6 separate regions of the Homo sapiens genome follow, and regions 1, 2, 3, 5 and 6 are each linked to region 4. Evidence: fine-mapped expression QTL. A gene starts in region 4. Each other region holds a variant in brackets. All regions are shown on one strand. Distances are between the middles of the regions.

Region 1 (5,073 bases), 310 kb before region 4:
GGGTACTTTTCACTATATCTCACTACATTTGTTCTCCTTCCCTATATATAAATTTTTAGCTTCCCTTTCCAATGACATTTTAAGTCAACCACCAAACAGTTGGCACTTGAACATAGACCACCCAGGGGTCTTCACTGGTCAGTTTACCTTTCTCTGTCTTGTATCCCTGATCTCAAAACAGGTTTCTTAAGGATGGGGACTGCATAATGATTTCAAAGGGCTGCACAGACATTATTCTGTGTGATATACACAACATCCTTCAGAATTGTACACGGCAGGAACTCTCATTTGGTTGGGTCAGGTAGAATCAGATTAAAAGCTAGACAATATATCTATACAATTTCACAAGTTATATAATTTACATAATTTTTTTTCCATTTAAAGAGTTATGGGGGTAAGGAGGGAGGGGAGGGCATGGGTCTGATTGCTTCCTTTTGTTTTCACAATAGAATATATTTTAATGCAAACTCATTTTGAAATTTTCACATGAATTTAACACTCCTAGCTTTTTTCCATGTAAAACCAGGCCAGGGGTAGGAAATGTCTTACCTCGCTCCAGTTTCCGACGATCCAGTGTGCAGAGCCGTGGCCGTTTGTGAGCTGCTTGTAATTGGAGGCATTTAGCAAAAAGCCCTCAGTAATCAGACTTGTTGCATCCTCCTCAGTCAGGACTGGTTCAGAACTTTTTGTTTGGTTCATGTTGTTTGGAAGTTTCAGGTGGTTACGGTTTGCCGTCTTTCCTGAGGGTTCTGGCTGGTGGTCTCCTCCCAGAGGGAGCAGAGTGTTGGCTGGCTTTTCAGTAACCATCCCCTCAACTCTGGGTGTCCCAGTTTCGGAAGTAGTGGGCCTTTGGCTGGGGAGCAGTCCTTCCATTACTGTGCTGAAGGGTGGCCACCAGGACTCCCTGCTGAGATCTGGTGTTAGTGGAGGTGCAAGTGGCATTTCTGTACTTTCCACTGGAGCGTCATTTCCAGGTACTCTGATCTTGGTCCATATTACAGGATTGCTTTCATCTTTGTCCTCAGGCTGTTCTCTTTCTTCCCCTGAGCCACTGTGAATCTCCATTTCTGGACCTTTGGTCAAGGTATTGTAAAATGGAGTCACAGGCCAAGTGATAGGGTTGCGGGAAGATGACAAGCCAGAACCACTTGTTGTTGTAGCTACAAGGCCTCCCTCCGAGGTAGGACCAGTATCTGAACTGGAAACATTTTCCTCACTTGGCTGAATGCTCAAGGATTGGGAAGTGAGGATGGGCTGGGAAGTGCTTCCAGTGGAAATGAGATAGCGAGAGCTCAGCTCAGGTTGGGTTGAGCTATCTTGCCACTGTTTCCCACCCAGGTCTCCTTCTTTGGAGGCTGTGGTAGGACTAGGGCTGCTGATTGCTGGAGTGCTTGTGCTCATAGACTCAGGCCCTGTGGGTGTGGTCAGCATTCTGGGCCTGGATGTAGGTGGAGGGACGGGCTTTAGTGTTGGTGGGTTTTTTCCATTGGAAATAGTGCCTTTGTTTGGTTTCAGAACTCTCCGGCTAGAAGGGCATTGCTGGAGGCCACACAGAGCTCGGCTGTTGGGTTTCCTTGTCACATCGCAAGGTTCATCATGGTTCTTGGCACATGTGACACTGCGAATCCGCACTCCACCACCACAGGAAACAGAACACTAGAAGAGAGAAACAGCTGTTAGCCTGGCGAGAGAAGATGCTTTTATTCTCATGGTTAGGTCTATAACAGATCAAAACAGGCCTGATGGAAACTAAACTATGCAGCTAAAATTGTCTGCTATCTACATTTGGTTTCTGTGCTCTTTCAGTTTTCCATGGAAATATGTATCTCCTGGAGACCAGCTGGGACTCAGTCTCAACCATTTATTCTTCACAAACTGAAAATGTAAACCATGATGTAGTCAAACTGCAGTCCCTTTGGGCTGTGAATCATGGATGGCGGGATCCACAATGAATGCAATGGTTTACACAAGTTGCTAAATCTTTTAAAGAGCTAGTAAGTCACACTGTCTCTTTTCTGGGATTGTGATTTTATTAAATTAATGTATAATGTGTGCATATTCTCTGGAATATGAAATTCGGTATAAGGAACCTTTCCCTTTCTATTTAGAAAGCAACTATCATAACTCACACATTTTCCCCAGGTACCTTAAGCTCCATTTTCACTTGCCTATGGCAGGTGGAATCAGATTAAAAGCTAGATAATCACCATACTCACACAGGTGCATAGATCCAAG[AC/A]CTACTCTAAAATTTAAAGGTACATAGTTAATCAAAGGTAGGAAATAGCCTTTCCCAAGGAGTTCGGTCAATCCCTCAGCATGGCACTGAGGTATATATTCGGGTACTGGTAAGTGCCCCTCCCCAATGTTCCCTCCACATTCTGTATGCCATGCTGAAGCCCAAGCAGCTAGACTGCCTTTGGGGGAATCCTAACAGAACAGGCCTTCCTCAGGATACATGGTAAAGAATCTTCATTGCATCAATTTCAACACCTGTGAATGGCAGATATGGAGTTGCTATAAAACACTAAATGTCTAAATATTTTGAAAAATCCGTACTTTTACCAAATGGTTCCATTTTTAGCTTCTCTTTCCAATGGCATTTGAAGTCAACCACCAAATAGTTGGCACTTGAGCACAGACCACCCAGGGGTCTTCACTGGTCATTTTACATTTCTCTGTCAGGTATCCCTGACCTCAAAGCACATTTCTTAAGGATGGGGACTGCATAATGATTTCAAAGGGCTGCGCAAACATTATTCTGTGTGATATACATGACGTCCCTATGAGATGTACAAGGCAGGAACTGTTATTCTGCCTCCCACAAGTGAGGAGCCTGAGGCCCAGGAACTCACTTGAAAGGCGGCAAGTCAGTCATAGAATAAGCATTAGATTTATTTTTACCCCCATCCCCAAACCTAGTGCAACACACTGTACAAGTAGCTGTCCATGGAGTTCACTCAGTGACTTTTGATTTATTAAAAGCTATCCAAAGGCAGGAACTGTTTTTTATTCATAATGGAATTCCAGGATAGTTCTGAGGACACAGTGATCACCTTATACATATTAATTAAGTGACTCTTTTACCTGGAAAAAAAAATCAGGAATGGAAAAATTCTCACTCATGAGCTTCTGCATTTAGATTAAGTTCCTTGCCTTCTCAAGTTCTATTTTCAGTTTTCTCTAAGTAGGAACATAATATTGACATAGAAAACTTCTCCTTTATTTTGTTTCAATCAAACATAATCACTTACTGATGTAAAACAGCTCTGTGAAATCAGCTCTTTTGAAAAGCAGATGCTGTGAGCACAGGAGAATGTACAGCTGAAGGAGTGTCGAACTGTGTTTGGACCCAACCAGTGAAGCTGTGGATTTAAGATGTCCACAAAATATTAAAGCAAGTCACTCCAAGATGGAACTTCCAGATTTGTTTTGAAATAATAATAATAATAATTTGGGCGGAAATGATGCTTAATGCACAATCATTTCCCACCAAAGTGGGGGCTACCAACTGCAAGTGTCAGAGCCCAACAGGGAGGAAACAGTCTCTTCTGGCATGGTCCATGACTCACTTCTCCCTGGACCTAGAAAGGGAAGGCAGGAGGTATTTATCTTCCTGGTTTGCTGCACTGTTTCTTCCCTTCTTGTGTAGGAAGATACTCTGTGCTCCATCTATTTTAGTCACGCTGAGTCCCTCTCCATTTATTACATTCTAATCTGAACTTCTTGGATTTTCAAATCCCCACTTTGTAAAACTGATCAGTTTTGTATGTGTGAACACATTTCCATGCTGGCTGCCTCAGGCAGGCTCAGTCTTGAGAGCTGACTGATAACTGAGGTCCCAGCTACTGCCAACTCTTCTCAGGCAACAGGTGGCTCTCTTTCGGCTTTCCTTTCCATGAAGTATTAGACTAGATAGTAACATAATAGGAAACGCTTCTATTTTTATTTTCTTTCTCTTCTTTCTCTTTTTCTTTTTGGTTTGTTTTGACTTGAAATGTTGCTAATATCTCTAAAGAAGTTAGCTTTACTTGTACACTTTTACAAAAAAATTTTAAATGCCAAAGTATAGGATCATATCCCCTCCACCTCCCCATTGAACTATGAAGTCAAAAAACTATAAAACCTCTGAGAAATAGCTTAAATTCCCTGATGTATCATATTAACTCCTTGTGTGATTCGGTGACTAAGTCAGCTTCCTCACCTGGAAACAGAGACAGCAGCACCTACCTTTGCAGGCTACTGTGTGGATTACCTTCAACAACAGGCTTAACAGAGGTGGCATAACATATGAAGACAATTAGTGATTGAAAGCTATTATTATCACTGTTCTAATAATGATGCTGATAATAATAATAGTGATCATAACAAAAGGCTTGGGGTTCCCCAATTTCTACTGCCCTTGTGGGTGACACACAGAATTGTCTCAACAGGGAGGTGTGACGTGAGCAGCTGTCTTGGTGAGGTAGGTGCAGGCACATGTCTACAAGATACTGTGGAGATCCACACACCCCCTACTGGTTTACTGCTGGATGTTTTTAGATTCAGATTTCCTAGAGCCAACCGATGGATATGTGGTTTTCAAATTTACCAATAACAAGAACTAAGTAATCTTACTGATGGTGTGAATTTGCTCAACCTAAAAGGGTAAGGCAGGAGTGAAGAAAAGCTACTGTATTAGTTTGTTTTCATGCTGCTATAAAGAAATACCAGACAGGGAAATTTATGAAGGAAAGCAGTTTAATTGACTCACAGTTCTGCATGGGTGGGGAGGCCTCAGGAAACTTACAATCATGGTGGAAGGGGAAGCAGACACATCCTTCTTCACATGGCGGCAGGAGAGACAAGTGCAGACTGAAGTGGGGAAAGCCCCTGATAAAACCCTCAGATCTCATGGGAACTCACTGTCACAAGAACAGCACGGGGGAACAGCTCCCATGATCTAATCATTCCCCATGAGTTCCCTCCCTCAACACATGGGGATTACAATTTGGATTACCATTCAAGATGAGATTTGGGTGGGGACACACAGCCAGACCATTTCAGCTACCTAGCTGGTTGCTGAGTTAAAATACA
Region 2 (5,073 bases), 350 kb before region 4:
ACTCTTCCCTCCCTTCCCGGATAAACTGCCACAACACGCAGTAGTTCACACAGTTTTTAGAAGCCTTCCTGTGAGAGCCAGCAGTCAGTTGCTCCTGACACCAAGCGATGGTCAGTTAGGTAAGATAATCAGTCTAGTAACACACCACTTCATTTTTGACTCTCCTTCTTCTCTGCCTCCTTTCTCTTTTCTATCACCCCTGCTTCCCTGGCACTGAATTTCCTAATAAAGTGTTAAATTTTTTCTCGAGATTCCATTTGATAGAAAACCCAGGATAAGACAAATCAGAATGATGGCAGAATCTGTCCATGGGAGAATTTTCTTTATTTTCTTTTTCTGAGATGGAGTCTTGCTCTGTCACCCAGGCTGGAGTGCAGTGGTACAATCTCGGCTCACTGCAACCTCCACCTCTTGGGTTCAAGTGATCCTCCTGCCTCAGCCTCCGGAGTAGCTGGGATTACAGGCATGTACCACCATGCCTGACTAATTTTTTTATTTTTAGTAGAGATGAGATTTCACCCTGTTGGCCAGGCTGGTCTTGAACTCCTGACCTCAGGTGATCCACCTGCTTCGGCCTCCCAAAGTGCTAGGACTACAGGTGTGAGCCACCACACCTGGCCACAATTTTCTTTATTTTCAGTATTGCTGATAGAGTGTTATTTATGCAATAAGCAAGCTTAGGGAGAATAATACCTCTTTCCTTCATTTACAGTTTAATTATTTTGTTCCATCAAACAGGCTGGCCATCTGGCAAACTGATCTGTGGGCTGACAAGAGGCCTGAAACTCAATAAGTCTGACTATGCCTAAAGCTTTAGGACAGATGCCAACTCCTCTTTGCTCTAGGAAAAGCCAGAGAATCCAAGGTGCTGGTTGTAAAACAGATGTTTCTTAGGCTGTGTGCCTCTGGAATAACTTTGATATTTGATCTTTTCTCTTTTGAAAGTATTTAATATTTTCCCTTCTCAACTCAAGACCCACAGCAGCCGTGGGTCAACTTTTAGCAGACTTAGAGGTATTCAGTGGCAGAAGAACACGAAAACCGAAGTATCCAGAAACATACTGTAAATCAATGAATGCACTGAATATTTACAATGAGTATAGATTATTTTTGTAATCAAAAGAAAATGCATGCTATTTTATTTTTATTTTTTTGCTTAAGTATAGTGGCAAGAAACCATTTTTTTAAAAAGCTAAAGTAGATTGAGGTTCCAAGATGGCTGAATAGGAAGAGCTCTGGTCTGCAGCTCCCAGCGAGATCGACACAAGATGAGTAATTTCTGCATTTCCAACTGAGGTACCTGGTTCATCTCACTGGGACTGGTTGGACAGTGGGTGCAGCTGTCCCTGCACCATGGAGGGCGAGCGGAAGCAGGGCGGGGCGTCGCTTCACCCGGGAAGTGCAAGGGGTTGGGGGATTGCCCTTTCCTATCCAAGGGAAGCCATGACAGACTGTACCTGGAAAAATGGGATACTCCCACTCAAATACTGCACTTTTCCCAAGGTCTTAGCAACTGGCAGACAAGGAGATTCTCTCCTGTGCCTGGTTCGGCAGGTCCCACACTCACGGAGCCTTGCTCATTGCTAGCGCAGCAGTCTGAGATCAAATGGTGAGGTGACAACCTAGCTGGGGGAGGGGTGTCCACCATTGCTGAGGCTTGAGTAGGTAAACAAAGTGGCCAGGAAGCTCGAACTGGGCGGAGCCCACCACAGCTCAGCACGGCCTACTGCCTCTGTAGACTCCACCTCTGTGGGCAGGGCATAGCTGAACAAAAGGCAGCAGACAACTTCTGCAGACTTAAACATCCCTGTCTGACAGCTCTGAAGAGAGCAGTGGTTCTCCCAGCATGGTGTTTGAGCTCTGAGAATGGACAGACTGCCTCCTCAAGTGGGTCCCTGACCCTTGTGTAGCCTAACTGGAACACACCTCCCAGCAGGGGCCAA[C/T]AGACACATCATATAGGCAGCTGACCCTCTGGGACGAAGCTTCCAGGGGAAGGATCAGGCAGCAATATTTGCTCTTCTGCAATATTTGCTGCTCTGCAGCCTCTGCTGGTGATACCCAGGCAAACAGGGTCTGGAGTGGACCTCCAGCAAACTCCAACAGCTCTGCAGCTGAGGGATCTGACTGTTAGAAGGAAAACTAACAAACAGAAAGGAATAGCATCAACATCAACAAAAAGGACATCTACACCAAAAACCCCATCTGTAGGTCACCAACATCAAAGACCAAAATAGGTAAAACCACAAAGATGGGGAGAAACCAGAGCAGAAAAGGTGAAAATTCTAAAAACTGGAGTTCCTCTTCTCCTTCAAAGGATCGTAGCTCCTCACCAGCACTGGAACAAAGCTGGATGGAGAATGACTTTGACGAGTTGACAGAAGTAGGCTTCGGAAGGTCAGTAATAACAATTTCTCTGAGCTAAAGGACATGTTCTAACCCATCAGAAGGAAGCTAAAAATCTTGGACAAAAGGTTAGATGAATGGCTAACTCGAATAAACAGTGTAGAGAAGACCTTAAATGACCTGATGGAGCTGAAAACCATGGCATCAGAACTTCGTGACGCATGCATAAGCTTCAATAGCAGATTCAATCAAGTGGAAGAAAAAGTGTCAGTGATTGAAGATTAAATTAATGAAATAAAGTGAGAAGACAAGTTTAGAGATAAAGAGTAAAAAGAAACAAACAAAGCCTCCAAGAAATATGGGACTATGTGAAAAGACCAAATCTACATTTGATTAATGTACCTGAAAGTGAGGAGAAGAATGGAACCAAGTTGGAAAACACTCTTCAAGATATTATCCAGGAAAACTTCCCCAACCTAGCAAGGCAGGCCAACATTCAAACTCAGGAAATACAGAGAACACCACAAAGATACTCCTCGAGAAGAGCAACCCTAAGACACATAATTGTCAGATTCACCAAGGCTGAAATGAAGGAAAAAATGTTAAGGGGAGCCAGAGAGAAAGGTCGGGTTACCCACAAAGGGAAGCCCATCACACTAACAGTGGCTGACACTCTGCAGAAACCCTACAAGAGAGAAGAGAGTGGGGGCCAATATTCAACATTCTTAAAGAAAAGAATTTTCAACCCAGAATTTCATATACAACCAAACTAAGCTTCATAAGTGAAGGAGAAATAAAATCATTTACAGACAAGCAAATGCTGAGAGATTTTGTCACCACCAGGCCTGCCTTACAAAAGAGCTCCTGAAGGAAGCACTAAACATGGAAAGCAACAACCGGTACCAGCCACTGCAAAAACATGCCAAATTGTAAAGACCATCAATGCTAGGAAGAAACTGCATCAATTAACGGGCAAAATAACCAGCTAGCATCATAATGACAGGATCAAATTCACACATAACAATACTAACCTTCAATGTAAATGGGCTAAATGCCCCAATTAAAAGACACAGACTAGCATTTTGGATAAAGAGTCAAGACCCATTGGTGTGTATATTCAGGAGACCCATCTCACATGCAGAGAAACACATAGGCTCAAAAAAAAAGGGATGGAGGAAGATCTACCAAGCAAATAGAAAGCAAAAAAAAAGCAGGGGTTGCAATCCTAGTCTCTGATAAAACAGACTTTAAACCAACAAAGATCAAAAGAGACAAAGAAAGCCATTACATAATGGTAAAGGGACCAATTCAACAAGAGCTAACTATCCTAAATATACATGCACCCAATACAGGAGCACCCAGATTCATAAAGCAAGTCCTTAGAGACCTACAAAGAGACTTAGACTTAGAGACCTACAAAGAGACTTAGACTCCCACACAATAATAATGGGAGACTTTAACACCCCACTGTCAATATTAGACAGATCAAGGAGACAGAAGGTTAACAAGGATATCCAGGACTTGAATTCAGCTCTGCACCAAGCAAACCTATTAGACATCTACAGAACTCTTCACCCCAAATCAACAGAAGATACATTCTTCTCAGCACCACATCACACTTATTCTAAAATTGAACACATAATTGGAAGTAAAGCACTCCTCAGCAAATGTAAAAGAACGGAAATCACAACAAACTGTCTCTCAGACCACAGTGCAATCAAATTAGAATTTAGGATTAAGAAACTCACTCAAAACCACACAACTATATGGAAACTGAACAACTTGCTCCTGAATGACTACTGGGTACATAACGAAATGAAGGCAGAAATAAAGGCGTTCTTTGAAACCAGTGAGAAGAAAGACACAATGTACCAGAATCTCTGGGACACATTTAAAGCAGCATGTAGAGGGAAATTTATAACACTAAATGCCCACAAGAGAAAGCAGGAAAGATCTAAAATCGACACCCTAACATCACAATTAAAAGAACTAGAGAAGCGAGAGGAAACAAATTCAAAAGCTAGCAGAAGGCAAGAAATAACTAAGATCAGAGCAGAACTGAAGGAGATAGAGATACAACAAACCCTTCAAAAACTGAATGAATCCAGGAGCTGGTTTTTTGAAAAGATCAACAAAATTGATAGACCGCTAGCAAGACTAAAAAAGAAGAAAAGAGAGAAGAATCAAATAGACGCAATAAAAAATGATACAGGGGATGTCGCCACCAACCTACAGAAATACAAACTACCATCAGAGAATACTATAAACACCTCTATGAAAATAAACTGGAAAACCCAGATAAAATGGATAAATTCTTGGACACATACACCCTACCAAGGCTAAACCAGGAAGAAGATGAATCTCTGAATAGCCCAATAACAGACTCTGAAATTGAGGCAATAATTAACAGCCTAACAACCAAAAAAAGTCCAGGACCAGAAGGATTCACACGCGAATTCTACCAGAGGTACAAAGAGGAGCTAGTACCATTTATTCTGAAACTATTCCAATCAATAGAAAAAGAGGGAATCCTCTGTAACTCATTTTATGAGGCCAGCATCATCCTGATACCAAAGCCTGGCAGAGACACAACAAAAAAAGAATTTTAGACCAATATCCATGATGAACATCAGTGCAAAAATCCTCAATAAAATACTGGCAAACTGAATCAAGGAGCACATCAAAAAGCTTATCCACCATTATCAAGTCGGCTTCATCCTTGGGATGCAA
Region 3 (5,073 bases), 300 kb before region 4:
ACCCAGTGTGGTTTGTGTCCATTATTTTTCCTGTGTACAGCCCGCTTGTCCATCCCTTCATATAGTAACAAGTGGGGCACTTCTATTTTTCATGGGAAAATAGTACACTGGGGGAAGTCCTTCATTCCTGACTTCAGGAAAGCCTCCTGACTTGAGACAGCATTGAATTTTGGTAATTTTGAAGATAAAACTTTTTACTTTTATTTTTATTTACTAAATATTAGATTTATTTATGTAGAATTTCTTTTGATTGTGACACTTTTAATCTCAAGTTAAAAATATCAGAAGAAAGCAATTCCTCAATTCAATCATATTCTTCATTTAATAAGTAATTGAGATTACTTATTTATTCTTTGGTGTTTAACATCAGTGGATAAAGAGCTAATAATATTGGAACAGTATGATGTGAAACCAAATAAGTGCCCCACTGTATTAATCTAATTACTTTGTCCTGCCTCTGACTTTTCTAAAGGAGGGCAGGCCAAGGGAATATATAAAATGCCATTCTGAAAAGGTCTTAATCTGAGTTGGTTGAAAGCCTAATTTATCTAAGTACTTGCTACAGGGCTTTCAGCTGTATTACTGCAAAGTGATAATAGACGTTCTTGTTTTCTCTTCTTGGAGTTTTCTCTACAGTCCCTTAGGGGACATATTGCCTGTGATTTTGCTATAGTCTGAATGTGTTCCCCAAAACATATGTGTTAGAAACTTAATCCTCAATATAACAGTGTTGGGAGGTGGGATCTGATGGGAGGTGTTTAGATCGTGAGGGCTTTACCATCATGAATGGATTAAGGCCACTTGGAAAAGGATTTGGGAGTGGTTTACTCCCTCTCACTCTTCTGTATGAGGACATGAACGTTTGTCCTCTGTTGCCCTTCCTCCTTCAGCCTTATGAGGATGCAGCAAGAAGACCCCCGCCAGATCAAATGAACCTCCAATCTTGGCCATCCAATCTCCAGAACTGTGAGAAATGTTTATTTTTAAAAGAAATTTATTTTTTATTTTTATAGAGAAAGGGTCTTGCTTTGTCACCCAGGCTAGTCTCGAACTCCTGCGCTCAAGTAATCCTGCCGCGGCCTCGCAAAGTGCTGGGATTACAGAGTGAGCCACCATACCTGGCCACGAAATAAATTTGTTCTTTATAAATTACCCAGTCTGTGGTATTCTGGTACAGCCACACAAAATGGACTAAAACAGCTTAGTCTTAGTCTCACAAGATTAAAGTGAAAACCATCTTCTTCTTCCTTTTTTTTTTTTTTTTTTCCTGTAAAGGTCTTCCAGGTCCAGGGCTCAGGAGCCATGGTCCAGTTGTTCTCTGCTGCCCATCTCATTCTTTTGGGTGTTTGCCATAATCCCACCTCTTGTTGGAGATTTCTAAAATACTGTTTTTATATTTATGGAGATTTTATGTTTTATCTAAATGTCTAAGTGTGTGTGTGTGTGTGTGTGTGTATGTGTGTGCCTATGTTTGAGATCTTTGAAGAGCCTGTAGTTGTTCCAGAATTCTGTAAAAGTTTACTGTAGTTTGGATATGAGTCCTCTCTGAGATCAAGTAGAAGGGATGGGTTAGAGACCCTTTGAACCTCTCTTTTATTTTTAAAAGAACCCTTCTTTTATCAGTAGCTTCTACTGATTCCCCTATCAGTATATGTTCCAACAGCGCTGATCGCCAACAAACCAGGACACGTCACTCTTTCTAACCTTCATTACTCAGATAAATGAAAGTCCAAAACTGAATTTGTTAAACCCTTGCTGAGAATAGTAATTTCCTTTAAGAAATCAAATTTTATAATTATCATCTTTCTTTGTACTAATATTTTTCCTAATAGAATTTACATTCCAAAATCCGATTCAACTAAACATTTCAAATTCTGACAAAACCATGACTACAGTATAAGCACTCTTACCTCCTGGCTCTGTGTACCCATTGTCTCCATATTCTCATTATATCCCATTCCTCCAGCCTCATTTTCCCTAGCTTTCTTGTCCCCTACACACACCATGCTCAGTCCTTTTCCCTCTTTCATGGGCTTTTCCCAGTCTCAACGATCTTATTCCTTTCATTTCGATCAGAAGGTCTCAATCAGCAGAGATTTCTGCAGCTTCCCTCCCCAGGGGACATTTGGGAATGTCTGAAG[A/T]CATTTTTCGTCGTCACAAATCAGTGGTGACAGGGAAAGGGGGGTGGGTTTCTATTGGCATCTAGTGGATAGAGTCCAGGGATACAGCTAAACCTCCTACATTGGCACTAGACAGCTTCCCACAACAAAAAACTATCCAGCCCAGTAAGCCAGGCGCGGTAGCTCACGCCTGTAATCCCAGCACTTTGGGAGGCTGAGGTGGGCGGATCACCTGAGGTCGGGAGTTCGAGACCAGCCTGACCAAAATGGAGAAACCCCGTCTCTACTAAAAAAAAAAGAATACAAAAATTAGCTGGGCGTGGTGGCACATGTTTGTAATCCCAGCTACTTGGGAGGCTGAGGTAGGAGGATCGCTTGAACCTGGGAGGCGGAGGTTGCGGTGAGCCGAGATTGCGCCATTGCACTCCAGCCCGGGCAACAAGAGCGAAACTCCGTCTCAAAACAAACAAACAAAAAAAACAAAAAACAAAAAAACAAAAAACAAAACAAAACAAAAAAAACTATCCAGCCCAAAGCAGCAATAGCGTTGAGGTTGAGAAACCTTGATTTAAGTCATATGTCATTATTTTGTGGACTGAAACCTACATGTAGCTGCCAGAGTTTAAAAAAATCACTGTCAGAGGTTTATTGAGTACTTTGGATATGCTAGGCACTATCACAGCTGTGGCCTAGCAGAGCTTTGCTTTGCTGAAAACCAAAATTCAGAGAGAAGTCAGTAGGGAGAAGGGACTCAAATAACCTCTTTCTGGAGTCAGATATATTAAATTTTCAAAGAATTTCTTTCTTGACAGCCTACCCTCTCCTGGAACATGCTCTACAAGGCTTTCATCCTGAAAGCCATTGGCAATGTAATATATATTTTTTTATGTTTAGATAATCAAAAGTTTTTATTAAATCTTAAAAAAATCTCTCTCAAATACTCCTTTGGGGAAGAACACAGAATGTTGAAATTGGTTGTAAAAACAAGATATTACTGAAGAAAAATGATCCATAAATAAATAAGATTAAACCTTGCACAGGAAATTTTTTGGGAAAGGAAATGACAGCTCCCAGTGATGGGTATGAACTTTTTAGAGATCATGGAAATTCGGTGACAGAAGAAGATATTGCAGCTTGAAATTCATATACAAGGAAACTAGTGAACTAATCTTGCAAAAACAAATAATATTAGTTTATTATTTATTTATTTTTAAAAAAGCAAATCGCCAGGCACATGGGCTCATGCCTGTAATCCCAGCACTTGGGGAGGCTAAGGCGGGTGGATCACTTGAGGTCAGGAGTTTGAGACCAGCCTGGCCAACATGGTGAAACCTAATCTCTAGTAAAAATACAAAAATTAGCCAGATGTGGTGGTGTGCGCCTGTAATCCCAGCTACCCACGAGGCTGGGGCAGGAGAATTGCTTGGACCTGGAGGCATGACTTAGTTTTGGAGTCAAGCATTCATAACATTTTTATTGTGTTTTAATGTGAGAGAAAAAGTTTAAATGTAGGGGATTCTGGTTCTAGTACTGAAACCTGCTTATCCTGAGATCCTAGGCAGCAGCATGGTGTAGCAGCACATACAGAGGCAGCACAGCAAACAGATCTGGGTTCAAATCCCGACTCTACAATTTGTAGCTAAGTGACCTAGGAAAATTTTGGTGAAAGCTTTAGAGTCTTCATTTGTATAATGAGCATAAATGTATCTACAAATTAGGGTTGCTTACAGGCTTAAATGATATGGTTATGTGGAAACAGCTTGGAAAATAGTGCATTCTTAAAAAGTGCTAGTTTTTAACACAGGAACAGAAAACCAAATACCATGTCATGTTCTGACTCATAAGTGGGAGTTGAACAATGAGAACACATGGACACAGGGAGGGGAACATCACACACTGGGGCCTGTAGGGAGTTGGGGGGCTAGGGGTGGGAGAGCATTAGGACAAATACCTAATGCAAGCGGGGCTTAAAACCTAGATGATGGGTTGATAGGTGCAGCAAACCACCATGGCACATGTATATCTATGGAACATCCTGCACATTCTGCACATGTATCCCAGAACTTAAAGTAAAATTTAAAAAAAGAAGTGCTAGTTTTCTCTGCAGCCATTTCCCCTAGGGTATGGCATCAAATTTCTCTGAACCTTTATCTCCTCATATACCACCTCAGAGTAATACCCATACCCTGTCTTATGACTATTTCATAAATATTTGTAGAAGCTAAAATGCAATCATAAATAAAAAGCACTTTTGTAAATTGGCCATTGATATGGCTTGGCTGTGTCCCCACTCAAATCTCAGCTTGAATTGTAGCTCCCATAATTCCCACGTGTTGTGGGAGGGACCTGGTGGGAGATAATTGAATCACGGGGGCGGATTGCCCCATACTGTTCTCATGCTAGTGAATAAGTCTCATGAGATTTGATGGCTTTATTAGGGCAAAACCCTTTCACTTGGCTCTCATTCTCTCTTGTCTGTAGCCACATAAGACATGCCTTTCCCCTTCTGCCACGATTGTGAGGCCTCCCTAACCACATGTAACTGTGAGTCCATTAAACCTCTTTTTCTTTGTAAGTTATCCAGTCTTCATTATATCTGAATGTTTCATGCAGTTCTACTTAGCTTATTATATCCTACTTGAGAGTGCATTTTCAGAAATTATACCTGTATGTATTATATTGTGCCTAATTAACATTCTCAGCAGTCAAAAATCTCACAGTTCATGAACTCTGTGGAGTAGTAGGCAATGGACTAGCTCTAAGAAGGGCTGTCTTCCCTGCCTCATTCTTCCCTGAGAAAGTAACATAACTGCAATTTCAGGTAAAACCTAGTGCTAGCCTTATCTTCCCTTGTCATTTCTAGTTCTTCCTGGCAAAAGAACCACAGGAAGGAGCTACAGCACGGAGAGGCAATGACACATTTCTGTCCTGCTTCAATAGTGGTGGGGTCCAG
Region 4 (5,073 bases):
GATACTCTCAGCACATAGCTCTAGATAGAGGTGACTAGGGAAAATAATCATATCTCACTTTCCAGAGAGCAAAAACCATGGCCCCGTGGTGTCTGCTTCACACCAAGCTGAATTCCCTTACAAAGAAGATGTGGAGCAGAGCTGAAAACCAACCCAGGAGAATGTGTGTCTTTGAACGAAATCATCTCCAAATGCCCTGGGAAGTGCTTGCAGGCTTTGTTTGTGCTGCCCCAGAAGGGAGACTTTTCACAAAGGAACTGTTTTTCAAAGAACAACAAGCCCTGCTATTTTAAACTTGGGGGTGGGAGATTGTATCTGGACCGTTTACACAAGTGAGTGCTGGCTGACTGACATCTAACCCCAGTGTTTGCTGGCTCCAGCTTTCCAAGTAAAGCAAAGAGAGGGACTTGCTTCTGATACGTCTTGAAGCCACAGCAGATGAGTTGTCCAGCAATATTTGAATTTTACAACATGAGCAGAAAACCCTGCTTAGAAATCCTAAACAAGGACAGGCTGGTGATGTTTATCACCCGAGTGGCCTTGGGAATTAAAGGGATGTCAGAAAGTCATGGAGGACACTTCCCGAGGCTTCAGCACAGTCAGCAAACACAGGACTTAGTGCATGCTAACCCAGTGCTCTGTGTGCGTGTGCATGCGTGTGGGTGCATATGCGTGTGTGTGTGCGTGTGTGTCCCTATTATTGCTACAGGACAGTGCTGCATGATTCTAAGAGTCAGACTACCTGAGCTGAAAACTCTGCTCTACATTAGCTGGCCTCATAAGCTCTCCAAGCTGCAGCATCCTCATCTGTACAGCAGGGACAGCAACACTGGTACCTGCACCCTGGAAGGCTATTGCCAGTGATCGGATGGGCTGACACAGAGTGCCACGCGGGCCATTGCTGCTGCTAGGACTGTTTACCCCCAGAGGTACAATGAACCCCCCACCAAACATGAAGGTGCCTCTGACCCTTCCAAGTCCAATAAACTGCTGACTGTTAGGCTTAAAAGAATAAAACAACAACAACAAATTGTCCACCAGAACGCTTCCAATGCTTCCTACAATAACATGAGTTCAGAAATTCATAAAGAGAAGCAGCCAGCTGTGGTCAGTGAGACAGGACAGGAAAAAGTGAGCCCTTATGGAGGTATAGTTCCCCCAAAAGGACTATTCTTTCAAAAATACAACCCTAAATCTTTCCAGGAAACCAAAACACAGCCAAGCCTGCTCAGTAGGGGGGAAGAATCACATTTCCCCTTTCCTGACCAGAGGTTTAAAACTAACTAGAAACACTGCAATGACGGCCAGTAGCCAGTTAGCACTTAAAAAAAAAATTTTCCATGTTTAGAGTCTGAAAAATAGGGGATCAAAACAGTACAGCATTCAAAGAGGAGACAAAAGAGAAAAAGTTACCAGCTACCTCTTGGGTCTTTCAAAGACTGCAGTGTCATCCCTGTAAAAGAGTGAGGTACTCACCTTTCTATAAGAATGAAGGACTCATCACCTTAAGCACTGAATTCTGAGAAAGCCTAGGCTCCTGAGGTCCCAGCCCAGATTTCCTTACAACGCAGCCAAATGGCTTTTCAGAGTTCAGTTCTGCCGGGTGGGGGAAGGGAAAGGGGAGCAACAAAATTCCCGCAAGTCTTACCACCACTGTTTTAAAAAGAAATAAAGAAGAGTCACTAACCTTGCCTCCTGTCCGGGAAGCGAACCGGGCCTGGCTGAGGCTGTCTCCCATAGCAAAGCGCCCCAAAGTTAAGGAGCTGAGCCACCACGGAAAGGTTTGCAAGCCAGCTCCTCTGGGCACATGGCATGATTCAGATGTTGAGGAGAAGAAAAGTCAAAAAAGTTTTAGCCCTCAGCTCCAGAAATAAAGCGCTCGCCTGTGGCCCAGCAGGAAGATGCAGGGGTGCATGGTCAGGCGCGAGAAGGCAGCGACTGCAAAGCTGCCCGCGATCTCCCTGTGCTTTTTTAAGCAGAAAGGAGCTAGACACCTTTTTCCCCTCCCTCCTCCTAAAAGGGGAGTGATTCAGCTGACAGTGTCCGCTTTCGGCGGGGTGTGGAATGGGCCAGAGCGGGAGGGCGCAGCCCACCCCGGTCCCCACCCCTCCGCCTCCCGCATGCCCCGCGGCCTCGCAGCCCGCCCGCTCGGTGCATCTTCCTCCCGGACTCCCACCCCCGCGCTCCTCCGGCCCCGCCCCGAACGCCAGGCCCAGCTGGCCGAGCCGGCCAAATAGGGGAGACCCGGGAGAGCCGCCCTGGGAGGCACTGGAGGAAGCTGCGAGTGAGAGGCCCCCAGGCCAGCCCCCCGGCGTGCTTAAATACAAGCTCAAAATGAGGAGAACAGAGTTGAGGCAGAGGGGGGCCCCACTCCCTCCATCCTTCCGCGCTCAGCGCTGCCCCCTCCCCTGCTGTTCTCCTCCAAGTTCCTGAACTTTTCCCAACATCGCTCTATCAAGACTCCTCACCCACTCGGACCGCTCTGGGATTCTCTTCCACTGGAAAAACTAATAGGCGATTTTTCTCTTTGCCAAGTCACACAAAGGGAAATGGGCTGCGCTAATCTGCTAATGTGACCTCAGACAAGCCCCCTCAGCTGTGCAATGAGGTGACTGCTGCAAATGCCTGTGGGCCCCTCTGAGTCTGCAGATCTCTGTGCGGCTCTTCTGATTCTAGAACCCCATCTTTCCTAGCCCACCTCCATTCACTCAAAAGGAAACCAGGAATTAAGTCAACCCAGGAAGGTGTTAAGGTATCTCCCCAGTTTCCCTGAACTGGCTACCCTGGAGAGGGCGTCCATTCATTCAGAGGCTCAAGCTTTTACATCGGTCAGAGAATGCCACAATCCAGGACGCTTGCCAGGCATCTTGAGAATTTACTGGGCTAATCCAGCCAAGATTTTTCACCTCTGAGCTGAAACAGGCCTCCTTACTCCATTCAGGAAGAATTCGGCCCCCAATATTGACTTTTCCCTGGCTGCCAGCCAACCACATGTGTTAATCAAGAGTTCTGGGATACCAGCTTACTCAACCTTGTATAGGGACAGAGCCTCCAAGGCAAACTCAGTGGTCTGAAAGCAAGGTGGTCCTCTCAGATGTGGAACACATGGGCACCAAGACTTTGAGAGGTATATGCTAGTTTCCTATTTTTGGTGTTACAAGTTACCATAAATTCAGTGGCTTGAAACAACTCAAATTTCTTATGTGACAGTTCTGATCTGAAACTGGTCTCACTGGGCTAAAATCAAGGAGTTAGCACAGCTGCATTCATTTCTGAAGACTCTAGGGGAGAATCTGTTGTCTTGCCTTTTCCAACTTCTAGAGGCTGCCTGAATTCCTCAGCTCATGGCCCTCTTCCCCCATCAAAGCTAGCAATGGCCCTTTGAGTCTTTCTCACATCACATCACTCTTCTTCCTCCCTTTTCCACTTATAAGGACCCTTGCGATTACATTAGACTCATCCTGGTTAACCAGGACACTCTCCTAATCAGCTGATTAGCAACCTTAATTCCATCTGCAACCTTAAATCCCCTTTACGTGTAACAGAACATGTTTTGTTGTCACAAGCAAGTAAAAGAACTACTCTGAGCCTTTTTTCTGTTACGTAAACATTAGGAAGCAGGATCACAACTGGAGTTAAAAGACATTCAGATAACACAGGCATGATGACCTGCATTTGCAAGGGCATTGAAGAACAACTTTGGGCTAGAATTCTTTTTGCTTCTTTTCTTTTCTTCCTCTTCCCCTTCTTCTTTGCTTCCCTTCACCCTTTCCTTGTTTCTCTCTCCTCCTTGTACTCTTCTGTCACTCTTCTTCTTCCACCTTTTTTTCTCCTGCTGCTCCTTTTAATAGCAAGCAAGATCTTGTCCAAAGGGCAAGATCACTCCTAGCTCCCAGGTCCTGGAGAAGAGATTTGTCTCTCAGGCAGAAACCTGAAGAACTCTGGAGAACTGCTGAGTTCCACCAATATCAGGGATGATACACTGAACACTCTGGCTTCACAGTTTAGCCTCTTCAACTCTAATGGCATTTCCCTTATTCTTTCTCCCATCTACTCTCAAGACCATAACCAGGAATATCTATTATCCATAAGTCAACCAAGACTGAAATATTAAAATTATAAAATCCCACCAACACTTTGTATTCTGCCAGCCCTTCCAAACCTTTATACCCAGTACCTCGGATCTTCAGCCTAGTAGGAACTTCTAGTTCCTTGATCTCCCCATCTTTGGTTTTCTAATAATCAGCATCTCTCTGGACTCACCACCTTTTTTGCCCAGTCATACCCTTTGATCCACCTCCTTAAACCAGTACATTCAACATCTCATATCTTCCTCATCAAAATCTAACTCTGTTTTACCCTAGCTGCTGATTTTCTCTGCTCTCTGTTTCCAAGTGCTGTTGAAAAAACTCACATAATTGCATCTAATTGTGCAACTATCAATTCATGTCTCCAACTTTAGCACGTTCTCAACATGACTTAGCACAAATATACATTCTGCTACTATTCTAACGTTCCTCCTACTCTTTCCAGAATTTACAAAAATCTCTCCAAAGCTTGGAGTTACCTCAGCGTAGAGAGACTTAATCCTCCTCAACTTTGCTTCTGCTTAATGAGAAAAGGTAACAAATCCCCTTGGTGACCAAGGTTGGTAGCAATAAAAAAGCCAACTACCTCTCCTGCCCACTGTAGATAGCAGAACTGTGAATCACTGCATAGTATCCAAACTACCTCTGAGCTTATACAAACATGCTGCCCTTGAGGAAACACTACAAAACCATGCAAGATTCCAGAGTTGAATGATAGCTAAGAATAGCAAGCATTTATTACATGCTGACTATATGCTTGGCTCTGTGCTAAAGACTATATGGGTATTGCTTTACTTAAACTTCATAAAAAACTTATTATGTGGGTACCATTAGTATCTTCATTTTATAGATGAGGAAACAGACACTGAAAGGTTAAGTAACTTGCCTAGGATTAAGTGGCTGTGAAAGTAAAATCAGGATGAAGCACTAAAGTTCAGAGAAGTTAAAAGATGTAGCAAAACCACTAAGTCAATTCAAATATAGG
Region 5 (5,073 bases), 98 kb before region 4:
TTAAGTCCGCTAGATTGGTAGCAAAGGGACCCCGTACTATAGAGCCAATTGCTTGATACCATGAATGTGCATGTCACGTAACTGGCTCCCCTACTTCATCCAGTGCCCATTTGAGAAAATTAGATAGGACTAAAATTCTGTCTGAAAAGTACTGGTTTTCCTTGACCTCGTGATAATATCTCTACAGTTTACATAATTGACATCCAATTATTGAATTTGGTGGGCTTATTATACTTTTTATCCCTCAAAGAGCCTGGCACAAGTGTTAAGCACAGGTGATGTTCAGCAGATATGTGTTGATTCAACACCTGCCACTGCAGCTATCTCTGACCCTGTGTGGAGCAATGATTGGCAGAACAGACTGACACTTGGTTATCAGGCTGTTTCCATAGGCACAGAACAAAAACAAGAAGATAGTATCCTTGAAAAGCCAGTCATAGCCTCTTCTCTATACTTGCAGTCCTGCACATAAGGGACAACTTGGTGAGCAGAGTGTGAGCCGAACTCCAACTCCACTCAACCTTTGGCTGGTGTTATTGCTCAGTGCACAATCTGGACAACTGAACATGGTTTACTTGTGGTTCCCCTGGACTGGCACAGAAGTCAATCTCCCAAGGTAGCCTTCTGAAAGGAGCCTGTGTCCTCTGTTGTCTCTTTCCCATAGCACTCCCTAAACATCAAGCACAACAGCAGGCACTGAGTTCTGGGAACCAGGCTTAGTGTCCATGAATTTGCCTTCATTCGGGATGTGTGCCACAGTGGATCACTGGGGTTTCATCTGCCTCAGGACTTTGGCCTCTTGGCCACCACGGCTCTTCCTCAATTACGGCTATCCAATTTATCTCCAGTGTGTTTCAGATAAAGGACTAATCTTATTTTATTCCTTGCTAAAAATTTCTGTTCACAAATACAAACAAGAAACATGAGCTCTAACTATTTGGGACCATGGACAGATAAGGTTTGTGTGTAATGAGGCTGAACACTTAAAATCATGGGTGAAGGTCAGACCCCCCAACAAAATGAGAATCTGTTCAAAATGTTAAAGCAAAATATCAAATGTTCCCATAGAATAAACTTTATTTTTTTGATTACTTAAGAATAATCTTCTGAATTGCTTAAAATAGTTTAAAACCCTGAATTTGATTAAGCAACCAGGAACAGATGTTTTAGAGAGTGAAGTTTCTTAAAATCTGGATGGGCTATAAATATCGACATAAATGGAAAGTTATCTAGTCACATTTTTTAAATTGAATTTAAGATTTTTTGAAATGAGAGACTGTATTGGATTATTTTACCCAAACTTTTTTTTCTTATTTGTTTAATGTATTTCCACATGAAGCTCCATATCCACATATTCAATTTAATATCCACAGCAACTCAGGGAAGTGGGGGAAAGCCGGCAGTCACAGGCCTCACTCAGCTCCCATGCAAACTGAAGGGCCAATCTCACTCCCACCGTGCCCCCACCAACAATCCCAAGTCTGTTCCCAGGCGAAGGGCGAGATGGGCTTGAAAATTTGCCCAAGACCATCTTCCTCCCAGCTGTGAGAGAAAAGGGCTTTAGTTCTTCCCCCCTCCCCGCCTGTGAAGTCTGCATGCCCGATTTGCACTCTCCCGCAAGTTCTGGTCAGGAGGCTTCTCGCCGCTTTCAAATTGTTACAAAGTTCAGCTAGAGAATTCCTCCTCCCCGTGGAGTTTACCCCCTGCTCCTCTGCCCACCCTCCCCATGAATCCCTGTGGTGCCCAGCGGGAATGGGCTGCTTGAGGACCCAGGGAGCTCCCAGGGCCTTCCTGTTGCTTCCTCTACCTCTGTATTTCGCTCGGCTCACTAACTTGACTCAGTTCCAAGTAAAGTCGGAAACTTCTCCCGCAAACAGACCTTCAGCTTCTCCAGTGGAGGTGTGTGCTTGGGAGAGGAGGGTCTCCCTTTCCCACTTCCGCAGCTGGGGCACTCACAGTATTTGGGGTGTCTCTTCCGGTCCTGCAGGAGAAGTCCGCTTCCTTCAGAGGGTCTGTGGGGCCTCTTGGGATTGCTGGTTTGTTCTTGCAGTCGATCTGGAGCTAAAATTCCGGTCCTCATTACTTCAAGAGTGGAGAGTGGAGGTTGCGCAAGCAGGCAAGATGGTGCTGAGCCGGTGAGCGGAAAGCCAGCTGCATGCCTGGGAAGATTCTGGTTTTCTGCACCCAGCCTGCTGCAGCTTATTCTCATCCTGCTACACTGACTTCTCTCTGTATAGCTCTGCCACTCAATTAAGTAAATCAAATATGCACTGTCTGCTGGCAATGGAGACCGAGGTGCAGGTAGGCACGGCACTTCTTCCTACGCTCCATTTTCCTTGGAAACCGGCACTGTGGATGGCACATCAGTAGCAGAACCAGCAGCAGCTGCCTGTTAAGATGTGAATGTATCTCAGCAGCCCTTGATATGGCAGGCATCTGAGGTACACACCTGAGTATCTTCCTCTATCTGCAAGGGGCCAGCGGGGGAGATCGCTGACTCCAGAACTTAAGAGTAGGAAAGTGGTATGATCTCCAGCACTATGAATCACATCCTGAGCTGTCATCAGTGAAAAATAACTCCATCGGCAGCTTGAAATACTCCTCAAAGGACAGTTCCCTAATGATGTCCTTTTTCTCCCAGAGAACCCATTATTTACATATTTTAAAAATTAATTAAAAAGTGACCAAGTTTTTTTAAAAAAGACATTTGAAAAGTTTGTTCATTTCAAGCAGCTGGTCACAAGAACAGACTTAC[G/A]TGTACAGCAAAGTCTGGATTTTATTTGGAAACTACATGCATAGCAGAGGAAAGCTGGAAATAATTTCTCTATAGTTCTGGCTGTAAAAGCATCACAGGACCCATGGGCTGAAAGATTCCAGTAAATCTAATCTGCAAGCATCTGCCCTGGCACCCAGTGTGCTTACAAATGGCACTGCCCTACCTGTAAAGAGACGGGAATCATTAGGCTGGCGAATTCAGTGATTGGAAATGTCTCAATATATTATAATACACCAACCCAGATAGAAATCCCTGTGGGAACAACAACAAAAAAGTGTTGCTCTCACCAAATGCCCCACGATGTAGTGCACTAAAAGACAAGAGACATCTGGAAAAGGTGGCAGAAATATTAAAAATTACCAAATTCCAGAATCCCTACGTCAAATGAAAAAAAATTTTAAATCGAAAAATAAATCTATTCACGTAGCACTGAAACTAGGAAATAGTCTCATTTCATACGAACAACCTTAAGAAATGTCATTCAGAAGCACAAAGGGACTCCAGCAACTACGCTCCTCAGAGGAGCGGTGGTGAATGGACAGACTCCTCAAGCTCTGGCTATACTCCCAATGTGGAGGAATGGGGGAGCTGGGATGTGGGAGCCATTCTTCGTCTCTGTCAGTAAGAGCCACCTCAGCCCAAATGTGGAGGGTTTTGAAAATTCGCCACTATACTCCCCACTGGTAGAAGTAAAAGCTGAAGGGAATGAAGGAACAAAGTGCCTGAGGCCGATTACTTCACACACAATTAAATGCTGGCCTAAGCTGAGAACAAAGCCCAGGCAAAAAAATACTTAGAAATTCCATTTGGAGAGCCCCACTCTGAAGAGTCCATTCTCTCTTCCATTGTGATAAATAGAATCTTTCTGGGCACATGAAGAAATGCTGGAATTTGCAACTTTTATTTTCTGCTGTCCATACAAGAGAAAAAACTCAAGCAAATGCCCAAAGATGTGTGTGCAACAATGTTGCCTGTGGCATTGTTTGTAACATCTAAGTCTCATCTACAGGGACACCAATAGGACAATAGATCATGGCACATACGTACTGTGGATATGCTGCAGAATGTGCCATGCAGGACTGCCACTGCCATCTTCTTCACTCTGGCACCCAGCATAAAGCGTGGCATACTCTATCCACCAACAATCACAGAGTTCATCACCAGTAGGTGCTGGAGGATGCATCAGTAAAGGAAAGGAACACACTACTGTGCAAACTTTAGAACAAATGCAACTTACATACTGACATGGAAGGATGCCAAGGTATATTGTTGCATGAAAAGCACCAAATTACAGAACACAGTATGACACCATTTTTATTGTTAGTGATTTCCTACACATTTATTTCTTCATACATTTCATTTTAAAATTATGTATATTAATATAGGTATGTAGCATTTATATACACCTGCAGTGCCTAAAAAGGTGTTGCTCACTGACATCCAGAACTTCTCTTCTTATAGGCAGATGGAGAGCTGAATTCCCTCATCCCTTGTGGTTGGATGGGGCCTCATGTCTAGTTTTTGCCAATGAGTTGTAAGAGTAAATGACACATGTCACTTCCAGGCCAGACCATTTACATACCAGCATGGGCCTCAGAGTTTCTTCCCTTTCCTAAGTTTATCTTGAAAGTATATATGTGCTGAGATCAAGCCTATGGCAACCTGGATCCTGTAGGGTCTATGAAGAGCAGGAAAAGAAATGGTGCAAGGAGCAACTTCAAAAGCCTCCCCAAAGCCAAACTTCACCCTCATCATCATTTGATTAAAAAACATAAAATTATGTGCTTTCAAATGAGAGCTGTGGACTCCCTAAGTCCAGCCTTTGGGAATGGAAGACTGGATGATGAACTCAGTGATTGTTGATGGATAGAGACTCCTTCAAGGAAGCTTGACTTCTCTCCAACTACTGGATCAAAGCATGTCCAAATTGAAAGGCAAAAACCTCACAGAAGGCAGGACTGAGAGGACTCTGAGAAACCTTCTTCTATAAAGGCATCTCTAAATCCAGGCATGAAAAAATAATATCCTGATAACAAGAATGTGAACAAGCAACTCTTTACATCACGTCAACAAATCTAGATGCCTAGCCTCCCACAGCCCCATGCCAGTTGCTAGCAAGAAGAATTTAGACTTCACTTTTACAGACCTTGAGTGGTCAAGGGTCTGTAATCTTCCTGGCCAAGCCTGTTGAAGAGGGCTCCTGCCCTATAAAATGGGAGGATATGCCATTGACACTGGAGACTAATTAAATGCTATCTCCTGGAGTTATAAGAAATAGGGAAGTTAGTAAACACTGG
Region 6 (5,073 bases), 89 kb before region 4:
AATGTGATGTGTCATTAGGAAACACACTCAACTTATAACCAGGTTCCTCATTCTGAATCTTTCCCAAACAGGTTCTGTCTGTTATTAGGCAGATCTCTTTTCTTCTCACTGTGGTTTGGTGTCCTTTCAGAAAAAACAAGAGCCTCAAAACAAACTCATTCATTATAGAAACATTTACTAAGCACTTACAGTGTAGCAGAAATGGTGCTGAAGGTACAAAGGTGAGGGAGTCCCAGTGCCAGTCACTGAAGAATGAATACTCATTGTGACATCAGACAGCGAAGCAACAAGAAAATGCCGTGAGGTTGAAGATTAAAGGTGACTGCTGGGGTGTTTCCCATCTTTGTGATTTCCACTCTTTGTGATCCCAGTGCCAAATCATTGACTTATTAAAGTGGAGCTTTCAGTGGAAGATTGCTATGGTCTGAATGTTTATGTCCCTCCAAAATGTATGTTAAAAACCTTATCACCAATGTAATGCTATTAGGAGGTAGGGCTTTGGGAAGGCGATCAGGCCATGAGAATGGAGCCCTCATGAATGAGATCAGTGCCTTATAAGAAAGGCCCCAGAGAGCTGCCTTCCCATTCTACCATGTAAGGTTACAGTGAGAAGGCACTATCTATGAATTGGGAAGTGGGCCTTCATCACCAGTCACTGAATCTGCTAGCATCTTGATCTTGGACTTTCCAGCCTCCAGTACTGTGAGAAATAAATTTCTGTTATTGATAAGCCACTCACATATAGTATTTTGTTATAGCAGCCCAAAAAGACTAAGAGAAGTTCTCCAACACTAATCAAACAGCATTATCTGAAAGGGGCTGTGTTGGAAAGTTGTTACTGTGTTGAACTCCAGCTCAAACAACTAAGCAAAGCTAAGCTGGGCCAAGTACAACATTGGATCCTAATCACAGGCAGGTAGCATTTGTCAAACAAGATGACACCACCCACAATGTCACAGTAGTGGAGGTGGTGCTCATCATCAAAGATGCCACTGCTCCACAGGATGGACCACCCACTGGTGCTATGGTAACAGCAACATGCAAACCACTGCTAGGATGGCCACCTGGTCCCTGCTCTCTGCATCTTCCCCATGACTCCCGTTAAATGCCCTCACTGGGTGCTCTGCTTAAAGTTTTAAGATTTCAGGCAACTTCCTCTTCCCAGGTGGCATCTAAAGTTAACATCCAGGGATAGCTAACAGAAAACCACCTAGCCTTCCCTTTTTAAGACACTACATCTCAGGGGCCCTACTCTGATCCCCAAGTAAATTCTTGGACATCCTTTCAAGCTACAAATGTTAGCAATAGCAGTCCTCTATGGGAGACGTAATACAGTTGCTATTATTAGGCAATTTGCACCGGGTAACAAGTTTACTCTTCCAGATGTGGGACCTATTTGCGGCAAAAGTCTGTTTATTCCTTCATGTAAGAAATGCTTACTGAGGAACTCTACATGCCAGACAATTAACTAGGTACTTGAGATCCAAACACAAGTGAAAAACAACCCCTGCCCTCAGAAGGAGACTTACCCATAATCAGCAAGTGTCACTGATATTATAAGATAAGGATGTCCAGGGAACAGCAAGGCACAAATGAGGTGGTAGACAGTCTCTCTAGAGGGCTAGGAAAAGACTCATACATGATAAGGTACATGGATCCAGGGAAGATGAAGGCAGTGTGGGATTGCTTTTGAATTTCTCCAAACTCGCCCATAAAAGCAGACAGACAAACTAAGATAACTAAACAAAAAAACCCACAGACAAAACTATTACAAACCCCAAAAGAAGTGTGGTGGGAACAAACATCTGATAGAATCAGACACATTACTGGTGACCGGACATAAGCCCTGTTAATGAGAAGCTTACATTTAGAGAGTCAATTAAGTACACGCTATACACAACCTAAAGTGGTAAATGCTACCTTGGTTATTCAACTTCACTGTTACATGCCTTGAAGTGTGGGGTGCACTGGCCTGAACCATTCTGGTTGTGTTTGATTCCTTAGGATGCCACCAACAAATAACATTGAGAAATACCCAGCTACTTTCATGTTCTCCAATGGCAGCAAAGTACAATGATCTCTATGATTCATGGGAGGTCAGATGAAGAGTGAGACAATTGTATTAGTCTGTTCTCGCACTGCTAATAAAGGCATACCCAAGACTGGGTAATTTATAGAGGAAAGAGGTTTAATTCTTCCAGTTCCACATGGCTGGGGAGGCCTCACAATCATGGCGAAAGGCAAAGGGGAAGCAAGACGCATCTTACACGGCAGCAGGCAAGAGGGTGTGTGCAGGGGAACTGCCCTTTTATAAAACCATCAAATCTCATGAGACTTATTCATTATCACAAGAACAGCATGGGAAAAACCTGCTCCCATGATTCAATTACCTCCTATGGGATCCCTCCCACGAAACATGGGATTATTACAATTCAAGGTGAGATTCGGGTGGGGACACAGAGCCAAACCATATCAACAATGTAGGGGAAGAAGACAAGAGCCTAGCTGTGCTGCCTATTGGCTGGACATCCTTTACCAAATGTCTTTAACTTCCCTAGGCCTTAATTTTCTCATTAAAAATGGAGACAGATATAACACACACCTCATGGGCTATTATAAGGACCGAATGGGATAATGTATGTGGGTGAGGAGAAGTCTTTGCAAACTAAAAACTGCTCCAAAATACATTATCTTCATTCACAGGCCACAGTAGATTAAGTTATTCATATATATTCCCTTCCTCTTCCCCCATCTTCATATATAGAGTTCCCTGCCCCTTGACTTTGGGCTCATCTATGTGACTTCTTTTGTTGGAAGGGATGTTAGCAAACCCAT[C/T]GCAAACAAGCTATGATTGCACAGTGGTGCTCACCTTCTGCACCCCCATCACTGCCATGGGAAGAGCCTCCTGCCAACCTGGCCTCAGAAGGAACATACAGAGAGCAGACCTGAGCCCAACCCTGCATGAGGGGCCAAGCCCAGCTCTCTCACAGCTGGAAGGAGAGCCAGCCAGCCAACTCCCAACTGACATGCAGATGTGTGAGCAAGAATAAATGATGGCTGTTTAAAGCCACTGAGTTTTAGAGTGGCATTCCCCAACACGTGCTGAAAGGTACACAGCCCATCACTTCCCTCCTCAGCCTAAGAGGTCCTGGGAAATTGACAGCACTGTAGAAACCATTTTGATAAAATATTTGCAATGCAATTCACAAGTGAAAAGAATGATAGAGCCAAAAGGAAGAACTAGCCTAAGGCAGTGAGGTGGGTGAAGGGTGGCATCAGAATCATTCAGAAATTTCAAATTACATATACCTGATCCGCTCACCATCCCCATTCCATTCATTCCTATAGATATTTACCAGCCTAAGAGTAAGGAGGTGAAGAGATAGAACATTGTACTCCAAGAAATCATAGTAAGAAAACCCTGCACTACAGAATAAAAAAAAATGTGAAAGTCAATGGGGATCAGCACAGCAAAGATGAAGTACCCATTCATTCCCACTTTGCACCCCTGACAAACAAACAATGTCTGACTAGTACCAATGTACTCATGAGAGTGAGCATCATGAAGTCTGTAACATACTGGAAAATATTCCAGTCTACTCAGTGTGATATTATGTAAGCATCAGTTAATTTTAATTTAAATTCTAAGATTGATCAAGCTAACACTATGCTTTATACACAGCCCTGGGGTGGTTAGCTAGCATTACAACAAAAGGAGCCACCCTCCAGGAGAGGCTCCCCAAATACTTCCACTACCTGGGTCAACATCAACAATCCACAGCTTGCTAATTATTATATAACAAATTTTAAAAATTATTGGTGAAAGTAGGGTCTTGTTAATTAGCATAATGAATACTAGAAATTCAGTCTCATTAAAGAAATTAAAGATGTTGGAGATACATAAACTGCCATGGTAGTTGAGCCGTATTCTCCATTGCATGAACAAGGTATGAGACCCCAGCAAGGCTCAAGGTCTGTATAGGGCACCTGAGGCTTACTCCTTAATCAGATCCACATCCAGCAATTGATCACATTAGGAGGATCACTGACTGCACAGACTTGTAATGTGGCAGTGGCTGTGCTGAATCTGCAGACCATCCTAATGGAGTGAGGTCTCCTAAGGGGAGCGCGTGGAGGCTTTCATCAAGCTCACAGAATAGACCTATGCACTATTTTTGTGTCTACTTTGATAATGAATGTTTGTCTAATAAATGTATGTGTGACAGGAGAAAAGAGGTTATGATATGTATGCTGTGAAGGAAAAAAGGGCTGGGTGCAGTGGTTTATGCCTTAATCCCAGCACTTTGGGAGGTGAGGTGGGAGGATAGCTTGAGCCCAGGAGTTCGAGGTTACAGTGAGCTGTGATTGTGCCATTGCACTCCAGCCTGGGCAACAGAGTGAGATTTTGTCTCTGAAAAGAAAAGGGGGAAAAAAAAGCCACCTCTCATTTAAAAAAAAAAAAAGACTTTGTAAAGAACATAAATTGCAGAACACTTAAAAATAAAATTAAACTTTATTATGTTTAGAGTCTGCTGCTAAGTGGTAAATAAGTGTAAATATCTAAAATTAGATACTTTTTTACAATTTCAAGTAAGATGAATAAATATTTTAAAATTCATTATTTATTCTTCCATCTACTAGCTACAAATCTGTTGTGAATTTCAGCTTACTCATTAGTTATATAGGTCATATGTACCTTGAAGGAATGTTGTAAGCATTTAATGAAATGATGCAGAAGATCATGAAAATACAAAAAAATACTGCGTGTTTTCAATGTGTTAGTTCCTTCTCTCCCCTTACTCCCAATATACAGAAGTCACTGAAGAATCTAGAAATGCATCCAGTCCATACACAGAGATGTCATTAATGGAAGCACAGCCTCGAGGTTGGGAACACCATTCATCATGGCCAGCTAGCTCAGGGGCTTTTCAATACCAGTCTGTGGAATGGAATGGTGTTGGGCAGAAAGAAGTAACTTTTTAACTTTTTAACATTCTTACATGGAAAAGTAGAAACATCAGAACCTAATTTTAAACGATTCAATGAAATCCAAGTCAAGGAGTCTCGGCTTTG

Alleles and levels. Positions count from the first base shown, and alleles are read on the strand shown. Sizes are in standard deviations (SD) of each study's normalised expression. Not every link is listed here.
With allele G in place of A in region 5, the expression in nucleus accumbens of the gene that starts at base 1,948 in region 4 is higher (large effect, 0.95 SD a copy in GTEx).
In carriers of allele T in region 6, the expression in fibroblasts of the gene that starts at base 1,948 in region 4 tends to be lower than with C alone (small effect, 0.25 SD a copy in GTEx).

Evidence for each region. PIP is the estimated chance that this variant, and not a neighbour inherited with it, causes the effect.
Region 1: its variant is the best candidate, but not a certain one, in a credible set for the expression of ADAMTS12 in lung (TOPMed, PIP 0.50).
Region 2: its variant is the best candidate, but not a certain one, in a credible set for the expression of ADAMTS12 in nucleus accumbens (GTEx, PIP 0.63).
Region 3: its variant is the best candidate, but not a certain one, in a credible set for the expression of ADAMTS12 in testis (GTEx, PIP 0.69).
Region 5: its variant is the best candidate, but not a certain one, in a credible set for the expression of ADAMTS12 in nucleus accumbens (GTEx, PIP 0.68).
Region 6: its variant is the best candidate, but not a certain one, in a credible set for the expression of ADAMTS12 in fibroblasts (GTEx, PIP 0.84).

The regions. Positions count from the first base shown.
Region 1 is chr5:33,575,505-33,580,577 of GRCh38, forward strand. It overlaps ADAMTS12 (ADAM metallopeptidase with thrombospondin type 1 motif 12), which reads right to left. Exons shown (of 24, transcript NM_030955.4): 19 at 550-1,656. Among named protein-coding and RNA genes, the nearest start is that of TARS1, 140 kb to the left of the region's middle. RefSeq lists an enhancer at 539-1,738. The variant AC/A (reference allele first, on the strand shown) is at 2,236.
Region 2 is chr5:33,538,622-33,543,694 of GRCh38, forward strand. The region is part of intron 22 of ADAMTS12 (ADAM metallopeptidase with thrombospondin type 1 motif 12); the gene reads right to left. Among named protein-coding and RNA genes, the nearest start is that of TARS1, 100 kb to the left of the region's middle. The variant C/T (reference allele first, on the strand shown) is at 1,944.
Region 3 is chr5:33,589,651-33,594,723 of GRCh38, forward strand. The region is part of intron 17 of ADAMTS12 (ADAM metallopeptidase with thrombospondin type 1 motif 12); the gene reads right to left. Among named protein-coding and RNA genes, the nearest start is that of TARS1, 150 kb to the left of the region's middle. The variant A/T (reference allele first, on the strand shown) is at 2,142.
Region 4 is chr5:33,890,043-33,895,115 of GRCh38, forward strand. ADAMTS12 (ADAM metallopeptidase with thrombospondin type 1 motif 12) reads right to left here and starts at 1,948. Exons shown (of 24, transcript NM_030955.4): 1 at 1,688-1,948. The coding sequence starts at 1,814. RefSeq lists enhancers at 1,230-1,731, 1,732-2,231.
Region 5 is chr5:33,792,307-33,797,379 of GRCh38, forward strand. The region is part of intron 2 of ADAMTS12 (ADAM metallopeptidase with thrombospondin type 1 motif 12); the gene reads right to left. Among named protein-coding and RNA genes, the nearest start is that of ADAMTS12, 97 kb to the right of the region's middle. The variant G/A (reference allele first, on the strand shown) is at 2,756.
Region 6 is chr5:33,801,476-33,806,548 of GRCh38, forward strand. The region is part of intron 2 of ADAMTS12 (ADAM metallopeptidase with thrombospondin type 1 motif 12); the gene reads right to left. Among named protein-coding and RNA genes, the nearest start is that of ADAMTS12, 88 kb to the right of the region's middle. The variant C/T (reference allele first, on the strand shown) is at 2,836.